2 linked regions of the Homo sapiens genome follow. The protein of the gene in region 1 binds, or shares a complex with, the protein of each later gene. Each region holds a gene or a part of one and is shown in the gene's direction. Other genes may lie near its edges. The genes, in order: PEX19 and PEX14.

What was found.
Region 2: the proteins of PEX19 (region 1) and PEX14 are in contact, whole or in part, in an NMR structure (PDB 2W85), measured with the Homo sapiens proteins. Residues at the interface, in NP_002848.1 of Homo sapiens: Gln67, Phe70, Phe71, Leu74, Phe75, Ser77; in NP_004556.1 of Homo sapiens: Leu28, Thr31, Ala32, Lys34, Phe35, Asn38, Ser39, Arg40, Val41, Ser44, Thr48, Phe52, Lys56, Leu58 (codon at 2,564).

The regions. Positions count from the first base shown.
Region 1 is NC_000001.11:160,276,035-160,282,141, reverse strand, and holds the end of PEX19 (peroxisomal biogenesis factor 19), read left to right. Parts: coding exon 1-103; intron 104-1,895; coding exon 1,896-2,072; intron 2,073-2,296; coding exon 2,297-2,341; intron 2,342-2,507; coding exon 2,508-2,591; 3' UTR 2,592-5,335; downstream 5,336-6,107. UniProt on the Homo sapiens protein: Necessary for early peroxisomal biogenesis. Acts both as a cytosolic chaperone and as an import receptor for peroxisomal membrane proteins (PMPs).
Region 2 is NC_000001.11:10,596,677-10,603,956, forward strand, and holds part of PEX14 (peroxisomal membrane protein PEX14), read left to right. Parts: intron 1-2,561; coding exon 2,562-2,690; intron 2,691-7,280. UniProt on the Homo sapiens protein: Component of the PEX13-PEX14 docking complex, a translocon channel that specifically mediates the import of peroxisomal cargo proteins bound to PEX5 receptor.

The DNA.
Region 1 (6,107 bases):
AGGGGATGGGGAAGGGAACATCCTCCCCATCATGCAGAGTATTATGCAGAACCTACTCTCCAAGGATGTGCTGTACCCATCACTGAAGGAGATCACAGAAAAGGTTTGTGAACTTCCATTTCTGCTTTTTCTCTTCATTTTCCATCACATCAACTGATGTGGGCTATTTTGTCTACTCAGAGCCTGCAGAAAGAGTAACTCGAGTGTGCTTTTTTTCCTTCTTTATTTATTTGAGGCAGGGAGAGTTGGGGGTTGGGGAGAGTTGTGTCTCTGAGAGAATAAAGCTGTCACACGGTATGTTGGGGTATAAGAGGTATAACGTTTGGGGTCTAAGAGGAAATCCTTCAGTTCTAGTTTTCTATAAACTGGTTCAAGACTCTGGGATTGTTGTCTGATCAATCTTGCATTTCTGACTTCATTTCTCCAGCAAGAATTTGGCTGGGCATGGTGGCTCATGCCTGTAATCCCAGCACCTTGGGAGGCCGAGGCGGGTGGATCACCTGAGGTCAGGAGTTCGAGACCAGCCTGGCCAACATGGTGAAACCCCGTCTGTAGTAAAAATACAAAAATTATCCTGGCGTAGTGGCTCACGCCTGTGATCGCAACTACTCAGGAGGCAGCAGGAGAATCACTTGAACCTGGGAGGCAGAGGTTGCAGTGAGCTGAGATTGTGCCACTGTACTCCGGCCTGGGTGACAGAGCAAGACTCCATCTGAAAAAGAAAAAGAATTAACTGAGGATTTACTTACTGGCTTTGTGATGTGAACAGTGTAAGCGTAGTTTAAATGATGGTCCCTGCCATAAAAGAGCTTATATGTGTGGTTGTATCATTTTGTTTTGAGACAGGGTCTAGCTCCAGTTGGAGCACAGTGGCACGATCTTGGCTCACCACAGCCTCCCCATCCCAGGCTCAAGTGTTTCTCCCATCTCAGCCTCCTGAGTGGCTGGGACTACAGGTGTGTGCCACCATGCTTGGCCAATGTTTTCAAAATTTTTTGTAGAGTTGAGCTCTCACTATATTGCTCAGGCTGGTCTCAAACTCCTGAGCTCAAGTGATCCTCCCACCTCAGCCTCCCAAAATGCTGGGATTACAAGTGTGAGCCACCACACCTGGCTAAAGAGTGTATAGTTTTACTGGAGAGATAAAATACAGGAATAGAAGCTTTTCAGTGACATGGGGAAATGTGGGTAAGTGTGTAATGAATAGTACAGACCACGAGTCAGCAGGCCAAGACCTGGGTGGGACAAATCCAACTCTCTAGCAAATAATGGTTTTTACATTTTTAAGGTCATTTGAAAAAAACTACAAAGAAAATGTGCAATAGCCGAGCGTAGTGGCTCACTCCTATAGTCCCAGCGCTTTGGGAGGCCACGGTGGACAGATTGCTTGAGCCCAGGAGTTTAAGACCAGCTTGAGCAACATGATGAAACCCTGTCTCTACAAAATACAAAAAAATTAGCCAGTCACAGTGGTGCACACTTGTAGACCCAGCTACTTGGGGAGGCTCAGGTGGGAGGATTGCTTGAGCCTGGGGAGATCGAGGCTGCAGTGAGTGGTGATCACACCATCACACTCCAGCCTGGGTGACAGAGTAAAACTCTGTCTCGAAAAAAAAGAAAAAAAAAACACAATAGAGACCATATGTGGCCCTTGAAGCCTAAAATATTCACTGTCTGGCCCTTTACAGAAGCTTACCAATCTCTGGTGACCATAAATGCTAACATGGCCAGGTGATCTGGTTGGAGTCAGTGCCGCTTTTCATGATGAACTTACTTATTTAGCTTTTCGTTTTTCTACGTCCCTTTCCCTTTCACATTTTAATCACATTGTTCTGATTACCCATCCATATCCATTGTTCACTTAATTCTTTTCCACCCATTCTCTCTTTTCTTAGTATCCAGAATGGTTGCAGAGTCATCGGGAATCTCTACCTCCAGAGCAGTTTGAAAAATATCAGGAGCAGCACAGCGTCATGTGCAAAATATGTGAGCAGTTTGAGGCAGAGACCCCCACAGACAGTGAAACCACTCAAAAGGCTCGTTTTGAGATGGTGCTGGATCTTATGCAGCAGGTAAGGCCTCTTGCCTTCTGCCCACTGGTGCTGTCCACTTAGGTGTTCAGTGAAGGAAGTATCTGGGAAGGATGCAATACTGCTAGACCTAGGTGGAGGAGGGATCCTCTCTTGTGATCTCTCTCAGAAGAAATAGAGAGATCATTCATTAGATTCCTCTTCTGGATCCTCTGTTGTTTTCTGGGCTTTTCTCTATTTCATGTTCCATTTTCCTTATTTTCTAGCTACAAGATTTAGGCCATCCTCCAAAAGAGCTGGCTGGAGAGATGGTGAGTATGTCTTATTTTTCCAGATTTTAATTTGAGTCCCCAATTTCCAGAATTCTTTAACCTCTCAGGATTCCACCTAAGGTGAAAATTGTGGCTACTGGGGATGGATCTTCACGTCTGTCCTAAAAAATGAGCAACTATCTGAGTCCCTTCATCTCTTCCCCAGCCTCCTGGCCTCAACTTTGACCTGGATGCCCTCAATCTTTCGGGCCCACCAGGTGCCAGTGGTGAACAGTGTCTGATCATGTGAAACACAACACGTTTTCCTCTCTGAGTCCCAGCTATGGGGAACATCTGGAGTCAGCAGAACCATTGGGACCTGAGGCAGGAGTGTCACCTGCGGGAGAAGTCTGCCCGCTGCCCTCTGTCATCCCATTCAAGATTGTGCCATACCAGCTGAGGTTTTTCCTCTGTCTCTCTAGGAATAGGGTCTGTTTCACAGGCCATTTCTGTGAACCCTACTCCATTGTGGTTTCTGCCACTATCAAAGTTCCAGCTACCTGCAAGGTGAAGGAAGGCATCCCTTTTGGGGCATGCACTTTCTTTCCTTTCTCAAAATAATGTTATATGTGGCCACACTGATGTTCACCTTTACGTCCAGGGTCTTTGTGCCTTGTCTCTACTCCCTCTCTTGGATCTGGGGAGGAGGGGCAGAGACCTGGGACTCTGTATTTCTATAGTTCTCCTGGCAGAGCCTTTGAGAATGGGGAGAAACAGCCTGGGCTGGGGCTACAGGTCTGTCACTATGCTCTCTTGCCTTCAGACAGACCATTCTGAATTCTCTAAAGGGAAAGGGCTTTTGCATCTAATCACAATAGAGTTGAAAGAGAGGCCTTAGGATTCTCCTCTCTCTAGGTGCTGAGCCCTCACCTCCCTGTTCCAGGCTGAGAACTCAAATGGTTACCCTGCTTCTTCCTACAATGCTGTGTGATATGGGTGAACCCAGCCCCTGACCTTCCTCTATCCCCTGCCCATCCTCCCTTTTACCTCCTCTCTTTTTTAAACACCTGTTTATCCCAACCTTTTTGAGCTCAAGCTGTGATAAAGAAGGGCCCATCCTATTTCCCCTCATCTAGTCCATTTACGATTCTCACTGACTCCCCGTCTTCCTGGCAGACACAAATAAACCCAGTGTCAGGTCTAGGAAATTAATGGCTATTCTTCCCCAGATACATTCTGGCTTATTTGAGATACATGATTCTCTTAGAATCCTGTCCCTTGGTTCAGGAAAGTAGCTTGGAAAAGGAGTAGGGGTATAGCTTGGGTCCCTTTTCCTGCAAGGCCCCATGGGGCAGAATATAATAAATATTCTGAGTGAGGAGTGTGGTCTTTTTCTGATCTTCCTCAGCTTCCGTAAGTTGCAGAGTGAGGTATATTAGGAGACTAGTTCTACACAATATTGTAATGCTGGGTTCCATCAACACCCACCTTCCACAACTCAGTCTGCACCTCAGTTGGCAAAGGAGACTGGATGGCCATCTTTCCTCATGTTCCCTTGAGTATTTCAATGTAGAAAGCCCTTCAAGTGGTATTATATTTTAACCTTTTACATTATTGTTATTAATGTTAGTAATATATTGTTATGTTTTCTAAATTATTTTTCTTTAAGCTGACGTGGCTTTTTTTCTGTGGCTCCCAGTGGGTCTACGGACCTTGGCTGACATATGTTGGTAGGTACTCTGGTCAGCTCAGCTGGCTGTCCTGGTTCACTCAGAAGATAAGTCTCTCCAAAGCAAATTCACATGCATTATGAGTCGCTTTGAGCTTCTGACATGTCACTTGCCCCGAGGTTAAAACTTTTCACCCCTTGAAGACCTTACATGTTTTATGGTATTGGTGAGGAAGGAAATGTTCTCAAGGTCTCAGGCTATTTGGGAAATTCCAACTCCTATACCTTACCAGAGCATGGAAGAGCCCAGATCTGAATGTAAAACGTCTCTGTTCTGCCAGAGATGGAAAAAATACAGGTATACTTGTGATATAGTCATGGGGCTTCAGTGTCACTATTTTCTCCTTAAAGCTCCAGCCAAAAACTGGACAAGGATAGAGAGGAGGAGGGAAGAACAAAAGAGCCCTTCTCTATGAACCTTGTGCCTTCTGTCCTACCAGTTTTCTTTTACAGATTCTCACTTCTGCTAGCCTAGCCAGGGCTTACTCCAGGAATCTAAATAGATGCCCTAGTCCACTTTATCTTTGTTCCCAAGGCACTCATTTTTATTTTGATTTTGATTGAATGTGAGCAGGTTGACCTCAGGTCACACTTTGTTCCAAAAACTTTTGGAATTATTCCAGGACTTGTGGTGGAGTTATGGTACTCTAGGGCAGTCTTTCTCAAACTATGTATGGTAAAGGACCAGGTTTTTTGTTTTCCAGTCCTTCACTTATCAATATGCATTCCTATTGCCCATGACAGGTATGGAGTTCACACTGTGTGCTGCCGACCCGGCAAGTTTGACAGCACCCAAACTGGCCAGACTGTTCTGTAGGTTAAGTCCATTGATCATGTACTTGGATATCACAGCAACATTGAAATGCTAAAAAGTTTTTAAACACTCTCAATTTCTAATTCACCATGTCACAGACTGGTGAAAAAAAAAAAAAGGTGTTCACTGACCAGCACAAGTCTGCAGATCATCTTTGAGTAGCACTGTTTTGGGGCCCTCGGTCTCTCTGAAGACCCTAGCAGAACTGATACCTACCTGTATCTCTTGTTCTCTCCTATTTGAGTTTCACTTCCAGAGAACTTGTTCTTCAGCAAGAATGTGTCACTAGTAAGGACATCTCTAGCATTTCTCTAGCCTTCCTTTTCTGCTGCTCAAAAATAATCGTTACAAAGCTTAGGTTTAAGCTGTATATGAAATATTTATGCGACTCTCAAACTTTAAAGGAGTTGCTCCTTTGTTCCAAAATTAAATGTGTTAGATAAATTTGTGATTGTATGGGTGGCTTCATGAATTAAGAATTGAATTAATACAGACTTTTTGATAATTGGGACATTTTCCTGTGACTCTGGAAGGTCTTGTCAAAGCCCCATGAGGCAGTTATAATATGATGTTAAGATGGCTTTGGGGAGCTAGGAGAAAACATTGGCCCATATTGAATGACGTGGAGACGGCAGACCATACAAAAAAGGACCAAAAGACTTAGAGGAAATGGGTATGCAAGAATGAATGTTATATAACACTGGTAAACCCACCAGCTGACTACCCCAGAAAGACCTGGGAATTATTTTTTAATAAAGACAATGGGAAAGGCACTGATGAAGGGTTACCAGCATCTTTGAGAAATTTAGAAGTGGCTGTCTCTCTAGATCGAAGCTGATACAAGATGTAAAAGAAACTGTTTTCCTAGTAGCAGTGGGGGAATGATAGGATCCTGACATAGCAGAGGCCAGGTGGCAACACTTAACTCTCAGAAGCAAGGTGAGTAAATTTCCTTAAGGGTAGCAAGGTCAAAGTGGAGATGGCTAACGGAATGTGAGTGGTCCTAGGAGCAGGATAGATGGGCAACCAAGAAGAGTATTGTCTTATATATAAGGGAGATCAAGAATGGTTGAACAGAAGGCTGAAGTCAGAAACTTCAAAGAAAAGTCCCCATTTCTTGTCCAGTTTTTAAGCCTGAGATAGTTCTTAGACTCATAAACTATCAATGGAAAGAGACATTTATCAGTTAATCATTGAGTGGAAAAGCACTGTTCATCCTCTGTTCTCACACCACAATGAGTGACACAGAACTCTTCTGTAATCACGTGTGGAATTCCCTCCCC
Region 2 (7,280 bases), about 150 Mb from region 1:
CCTCAGGTTTCTTATCTGTTAAATGAGGGCAGTGACTGGGATAATGGCCCGGCTCTGAATGTGATTCAGTGAGATTGTTAAAACGCTTACTTTTAAAAAGAAGAGAAAGGATTCATTTACTGTAACTAAATCAAAATCCTGCCTCTCCCAGAGAACCAGGGATATCAGAATTTCAGCCAATATAAATTTTGAGCCTCAAATGATAACGTCTGTGAAAAACAAGAGCTTGGAAGGAAGTACTGATGCCCTTTCAACTGTGGCCTCACTAGTGGGCTCGGCTGCGATAATGCAAGGAACATGTTTTATTAGGAAAATAGGCTTCATAAAAGCTCAGGGCCAGAGGGCAGAACTGCGGGCAGGGCGTCCTGTCCCTTTAACCAGCTCCGGCCCTCAGGGCCACAGCACAGTCTGTAACTTACTGTATATTTCCCCAGTGTTAAACATTATTGTACTTGTTTATATTTGAAAGAGCCAAAAGGGAAAATGAGAATGCAACTGAATGCTCCTTTTGGGAAAATTATCTTCATTTGCAGCCAGCGGCTGACAAGGCACACGAACCACCAGGTTTATAAAATTCCGTAGTGTACCAGTGACCATCAGCCTGTGCTGACATCGCAGATGCTGCTTTCTTCTCTAATGGCTGATTATGAACTGGTTAAAACAATGTCTTTCCCACCAGGGCTCCGAAAGGGGTTCCCCTTCCTGTTTAGTCGGAGCGATCGGCAGTCACTACACAGGCTGGAACCTGAGAGGCACAAACTCAGGGCGGGGGTATTCTCTGTTGTTGCCTGGCTTGCCTGTTGGTCCTGTCCCTGTTCTTCTTGGAAGGTGAAATTATGGGTAAAGCAGTCCCTTTGCAGCAAGCACCCCCTCTCTAGCTCCACTCTACTGACCTTCAGCTTTTGTCTTTGGAAGGTGGTACGTGATGCGCTGTGAACCCTGGAAGCATTTTCATCCAGCCCACCAATCTGTTGAGAGCATGGTGCTATCAGGGCAACCCGGTGGCTCTTCAGACTTCCCAGTGGTGAGGCTGTGCCTGCCCTTGGCCAGCTCCACTGTGTGAAGAGGGTAAAGAGGGGAACAGCTGCAGTTTTAAATGGGGATAGTCCTCAACTCCTCAGCACAGAGAAGGGAAAAAAGAGTCCAGGGCTGTTTAGAAAAGTTCGGGCATTTTCCTTTGACTAGCTGTGGTAGGGCATGAAAAGTTTGAGGGGTGGCTGCAGTCAACTCATATGCCAGTATGGTGCAGGGCGGAGCTGTGCTTTAAAGCATTAATGTGCACCATCTATTAGCCCCTAGGCATGGAGTATGAGGCACCATCCTTTTGAAGATGCTGATCCTCAGAACCTCCTTGTACTTCATCTACCCCCAGGGGCAAATATACCATGCTGTGGGCCTCTAATGGAGAGCTGCCGACCAGATGTGGAAAAGCTCTCGGCTGTAGTTTAAAAGCTCTGTGTTGCGGCTCGCTTGGATGTTGGGATTCCTGGAACAGCAAGGGCTGGCCGAGTGGTCTTTTGCAGACTAACAGTGACCTCCCACCTGCTTTTCCCACTCTCAGCAGCTGGAGTGCCTTTGTACACACAGCTACTTCCTGAGCTGGCCCCGTGTGACCGCTCCTTTCATACTTGAGCGCCACATTTCATTCTGTTCTTTGGGTTGGATGGGGCTCTCTTCCTCCTCCCAAGAGTCAGTGTCCCAAATTGGCTCAGACCCGGTGGAAATATCCCAGCTGTGTCCCCACTGGAAATGCGGCCTTCATGGGTTTTCATTTGCCTTTTATTCTTCTGTGGGCAAATCCTCTCCACATGGCATAGCCACTGCAGATGGCGCCCTGCCACTTCCTGATGTCCCATGTATGGTGTGGTTTAGAGTGTCGGGAGGATTTCAAGAAGGGAAAAGAAAAACTAGCCAAAGGCGATACAGGCAGCGTGTGATAGGCTAGAATAATAATCATCTGAAAGTTTGGGCCTGGCCTTGTTTTGATCTGTTTTCTTGTTTTATTTTCTTCTTTACATTCTATATCCCATTCATACTAATCACAGTCAGTCCTGATTTTTCTTTTTATTTCTGCATTTGTCATAAAATAAAGCAAATTATTCCCGTCTTCAGAAACGATCTAGACTAATTAGTCGTCTCACCCAATAATTAGTTTTTTGTTTCCCTGTCTGTTTTCGTGCATTATTGTTAGTTTTTTCCCCTCTTTTTTTTTTAACACCATTACAGATTAAAATGAGCCACATTTGCAGTTGATGGTATCTGTTTTCGGGGGAAGAATGGAGAATTGCAGTACCGAGCGACTTCAAAAGCAGCAATAAACTCAAGGATAAATTAAGGAAATTGAATGAGCCACATTTGGAAGCAGTGTTGAGGCTAATATTCTGTCGCTTAAGGTTAAATTGCAACTGAGAGAGGTTCCGGAGAATCTGAAATCGGGGAGGCAACTTACTAGGATGCGAGGCATTCTGTGGCTGTAAAGGTCTTTGCTCAGTGAAGATTCTGTTGCAGCTATGGACACTGACAAAAGGTACTCACCTGCAATGATGTCCTCTTCTCCCCAGGGCTGACAGATGAAGAGATTGATATGGCCTTCCAGCAGTCGGGCACTGCTGCCGATGAGCCTTCGTCCTTGGGCCCAGCCACACAGGTGGTTCCTGTCCAGCCCCCTCACCTCATATCTCAGCCATACAGTAAGTCACCCGCTCAAACTCCTGCTTAACCTTGATTGGGATTCAGGACTCTGGCCAAAGGGCAGTGTTCTGTATCTCCCAGACTTAGCAAACCAGGAGAAACTGGGAGCAGCAGAAAGCTCTTGGGTTTTTCCCAAGGAATGTGACACACCCCAGTCTTCTAGACAAACTTTTTAAAGTATGTGACAAAGGTTTAAGAAGAGACAAGGGATCAGAATAAATGATTTTATTGTTGTTTCAGGTATTTTGGTTACATGCAGAAAACCTGTACAACTATTTATTGATTCTGTTCCCATCTCCTCATACCAGTGCTTTTGAATGTTACTGTTTCACTAAAAACAGCGTGACCATCTGACTCATGGGTGCATTCTTGTTTGCTCACTGCAATAACCTGTCTCCCACTTCTATTTTTTTAAGTTAATATTTGTAAGTTTAGGTCAGCCTCCATTTCCCTCCCTCCCTTGTCCTGGCTATACTTTGTACGTTTATGTAGTAGCGGTCTGTTAGGGAATTTCAGGTTAAAACATGAAGTTCCTTTTTGAATGTTTCTTTTAATTATACGAGATCATGACCCATGAGGGGTCTTTCGTTGTCTTAAATGAAAGCTACTATAGGAATAAAGTTTCTTCAAACAAGTTATAAATGCATACCTCCAAAATGCAGCCAGAAGCCCTCCTTGAAATCACTTATAAAAAGTTTAAAAAGGCTAAAATTGACTACAAAGTTATGGAAAATAGCTCCATTTTGTTTCTTTAATGAAACTCAGCATTGGGCCGGGCACGTTGGCTCACGCCTCTAATCCCTGCACTTTGGGAGGCTGAGGCGGGTGGATCACCTGAGGTCAGGAGTTCGAGACCAGCCCGGCCAACATGATGAAACCCTGTCTCTACTAAAAATACAAAAAATTAGCCAGATGTGGTGGCAGGCGCCTGTAATCCCTGCTACTCAGGAGGCTGAGGAAGGAGAATTGCTTGAACCCGGGAGGTGGAGGTTGCAGTGAGCCGAGATCGTGCCACTGCACTCCAGACTGGGCAACAAGAGCGAAACTCTGCCTCAAAAAAACAAACAGGCAGGGTGCAGTGGCTCACATCTGTAATCCCAACACTTTGAGAGGCCAAGGCAGGCGGATCACTTGAGGTCAGGAGTTCGAGACCAGCCTGGCCAACGTGGTGAAACCGTGTCTCTACTAAAAATACAAAAAATTAGCCGGGCGTGGTGGCACACGCCTGTAATCCCAGCTCCTTAGGGGGCTGAGGCAGGAGAATCACTTAAACCCAGGAGGTGGAAGTTGCAGTGAGCCGAGATCACGCCGCTGCACTCCAGCCTAGGTGACAGAGTGAGACTCTGTCTCAAAAAAAATAAAATAAAATAAAGAAACTCAATACTGGATCTGTGATCTCTCAAAATGCCTTTTCTATAATTGTTATTCTCAGAAGTTTTATTTTTGCAAAAAATGATTTAAAACTGTTAGATATCAGATTTTAAGGCCGGGCGCAGTGGCTCCCGCCTGTAATCCCAGCACTTTGGGAGGCCGAGGCGGGTGGATCATGAGGTCAGGAGTTCGAGACCACCCTGGGCAACAAGAGCAAAACTCCATCTCAAAAAAACAGACAGGCCGGGCGCGGTGGCTCACGCCTGTAATCCCAGCACTTTGGGAGGCCAAGGCGGGCGGATCACTTGAGGTCAGGAGTTGGAGACCAGCCTGGCCAATGTGGCAAAACCCTGTCTCTAATAAAAATACAAAAATTAGCTGGGCATGGTGGCGGGTGCTTGTAATCCCAGCTACTCAGGAGGCTGAGGCAGGAGAATCGCTTGAACCGAGGAGGTGGAGGTTGCAATGAGCTGAGATCATGCCATTGCACTCCAGCTTGGGTGACAAGAGCAAGACTCTGTCTCAAAAAAAAAAAAAAAAAAAAAAGTGTTAGATATCAGATTTTAAAAGGCATATTTTAAAATGACAGATTCGTTTTGATCCCCCAGCACCTGGTCTGAAGCTGCCTTCTTTCCCTCACCTCAGCACTGTTTTCATCCAGCTCAGCTGCAGCTAGGCAGGTGTGATCTTGGCAGTAGAGCCAAAAAGGCCTTCTCTTCTCCGGACTTGCTGAAGGGCCAGCCAGTGGGTTGGAATCTGCTGTCTGTGTTACGGATCTTATTTAGAGATCTCCTCCTTTGGCTGTCCACAGAAGGCTGAATGGGGGAGGCCAGGGAGTGTGTGCTCAAGTGTGTCAATCTGTCAGTGCCTTGCATGGGTGACCCACTGCAGGTTGCAGAGCTTCAGTGGTGAGCCTTGTCCTGTATTTGGGCTACTGGGTTAGCACCTGTGACTTGTCAGCTTGGGGCTCCTTTCTCCTTCCTGGCCAGCATTTTTTCCAATCCATTGTAGTTGCTTTGGGTCCTAAGCTGACTTTATGTGCTTCTTTTTAACCAAAGGCTGAGTCTCCACACTTTTTCTTTAGTTGTGTCCCTGGGCCCAGCCGTGTAATGGGATTTGTTGAGGATAGGCAGCGGCAGCTGGGGTGCAGAATTTTCTAAGATGCACATCTGTTCTGTTCCAGCTGTTTCCTCCAGTGGCTTAATACCGAACAGGTCTCTCGGCTACTTGGAAACTTCTTACTCAGAACAAATTGTTCTGGTTGATCACAGAGTTGGCCTAAAACATCATATGTTCACCTACTTTCCATAGACACAAAGGGTTAAACTGTTAGTCTTTCTGAAAGAGGCAAAAGAATGGGGTGGGGAGGGGCAATTCAGTTATTTAAATCATACTCATGTCCAGATCGCTCTGAGAAAAAGCAATACACGTTGAGGTATTTAGGTAGGAATATTTTTAAGAGCCTTCCAGCCCCTAAAAATAAAATACACATTCTTAGACACAGACTTCTTCCTGCTTTGACACTAGTGTAAAAACAATGGTAATGATAATTTTAAATACCTGAAGTTTTTAGTTGTCATCATTGAGCTTCATTCTTCTCATACCGTTACATTGCTCCTCTCACTCCGGGGGTGACTCTACCTCTTCACTTCTGTACTTTTGCCAAGAGGTGTCAAAACTGCTTAAAAAAAAAAAAAGCTTGATTTTGATTAATATAGAGAAACAAGACTTTGCCTGACTGATAATAAAACTGATAAATGACATTTGAATTACTTGTAGCGGTAATTTATTACATAAAATATCTTTTATTTGACATGCGATTAGTTGCTGGAAGCATCACTCAATCTGACTAGTTTAAACATGCTCCAAAATGAACCCCAGTAAAAACCAGGGCTGTCTGCTGCTGGCATTATGAAATATACTAATCCTGGAGTGAGGGAAAAATCTGACTTTAAATATTTAAATGATTAATTGGGTTTATATATTTTTTTACTTTTCTAACCCCCTTAATTACAAGCAAACTCAGGGGAGTTTCTGAACTAGGTGCACAATCTGCATGCTTATCACTGAGGCATTGTCTGCGTCGGGAGGGATTTATGGCCTCTATTCATGTGTGTTCCTGCCGATTTTACATCTAGATCCCCGGCAGCCTTTTCCTTCCCATTTCTTGGCTTTTTACGGACATTCCATCTCTGAGCCCAAGGCTAGAAAATGGGATCCCCTGGGCCTAGCCCCAAACACTCAGGTCTCAGGGTAGGGTAGCTTTTCCAAGACCACCCCAGGGAGCCCAGTGCTCTTCACCTTTGAACCTGCTGGCCCACCTGCTCAGTGGCAGGTGTGCCACTGAGTGCCTCTTTTGGCATCTCTGTTCTTTGGTGAATGTGGTTGACCTTGAGATGTTAGCAAATGCCAGTGTTGGCAGAGAGAACGTAGAGACCTGCCCAAATAGTAACAGTTCAATTTCTCAGTATTTTTATTAACCATCTACTATACGGTCAGTACTATATCATGCGAGAGATCCAAAACCTGATCTTTAAGCATCTTGCTAAGCTCTTTGGGAAAGATAAGATAAACTCTTAAGAAAAGGATAATAATATAAGATGTTGTGATTTAATGCCAAAATTAATTATACAGACAAGAAATTCTGAAATTCTGAAATATAGAAAAGAGAAGAATTAATGTGGGCTAGAGTCAGGGAAGGCTTTTGTGAAAGTGATAGGAGGTTGGCACCAAGGGGAAGCTTGGTGTCACCTGGTGTGAGCATAAACCAGTGCTCTCGGGGGCTAGAAGAAAGTTGGTACAGTTCAGGAGAAGTCAGGCTGTGATTCGAGAGAAGATTTGAAATTCTCCATTTCTCATTTTGGTTTCTTGTCTGGCTTTACATCGGGAGTCAGTGCATGTGTATAGGTGCAGGCCTAGCCCAGTCCTGAGCAGAGGTCTGATAAATGCTGGTTGATTGATTCACGCCAAGCTGATTTGTCTTCGTCCTCCCAGAGAGACCAAGAAGCTTTGAGATATAAGCAGGACCAGTGTAAATTTTGTAGGATAATAATTTCTTCTTAGATTTGAACATTTTCCCTCCACTGTCTTTGATAAACAATTTAAACCCCTTCAAAGACTGACCTAGAGCTTCAGTTGCTTCTTCTCAAAATAGGATGTCAGCATCTGAGGCCGGTGAAAGGTTTTGAACCATTTGATTAGAAATCCTGAGAGAGAGT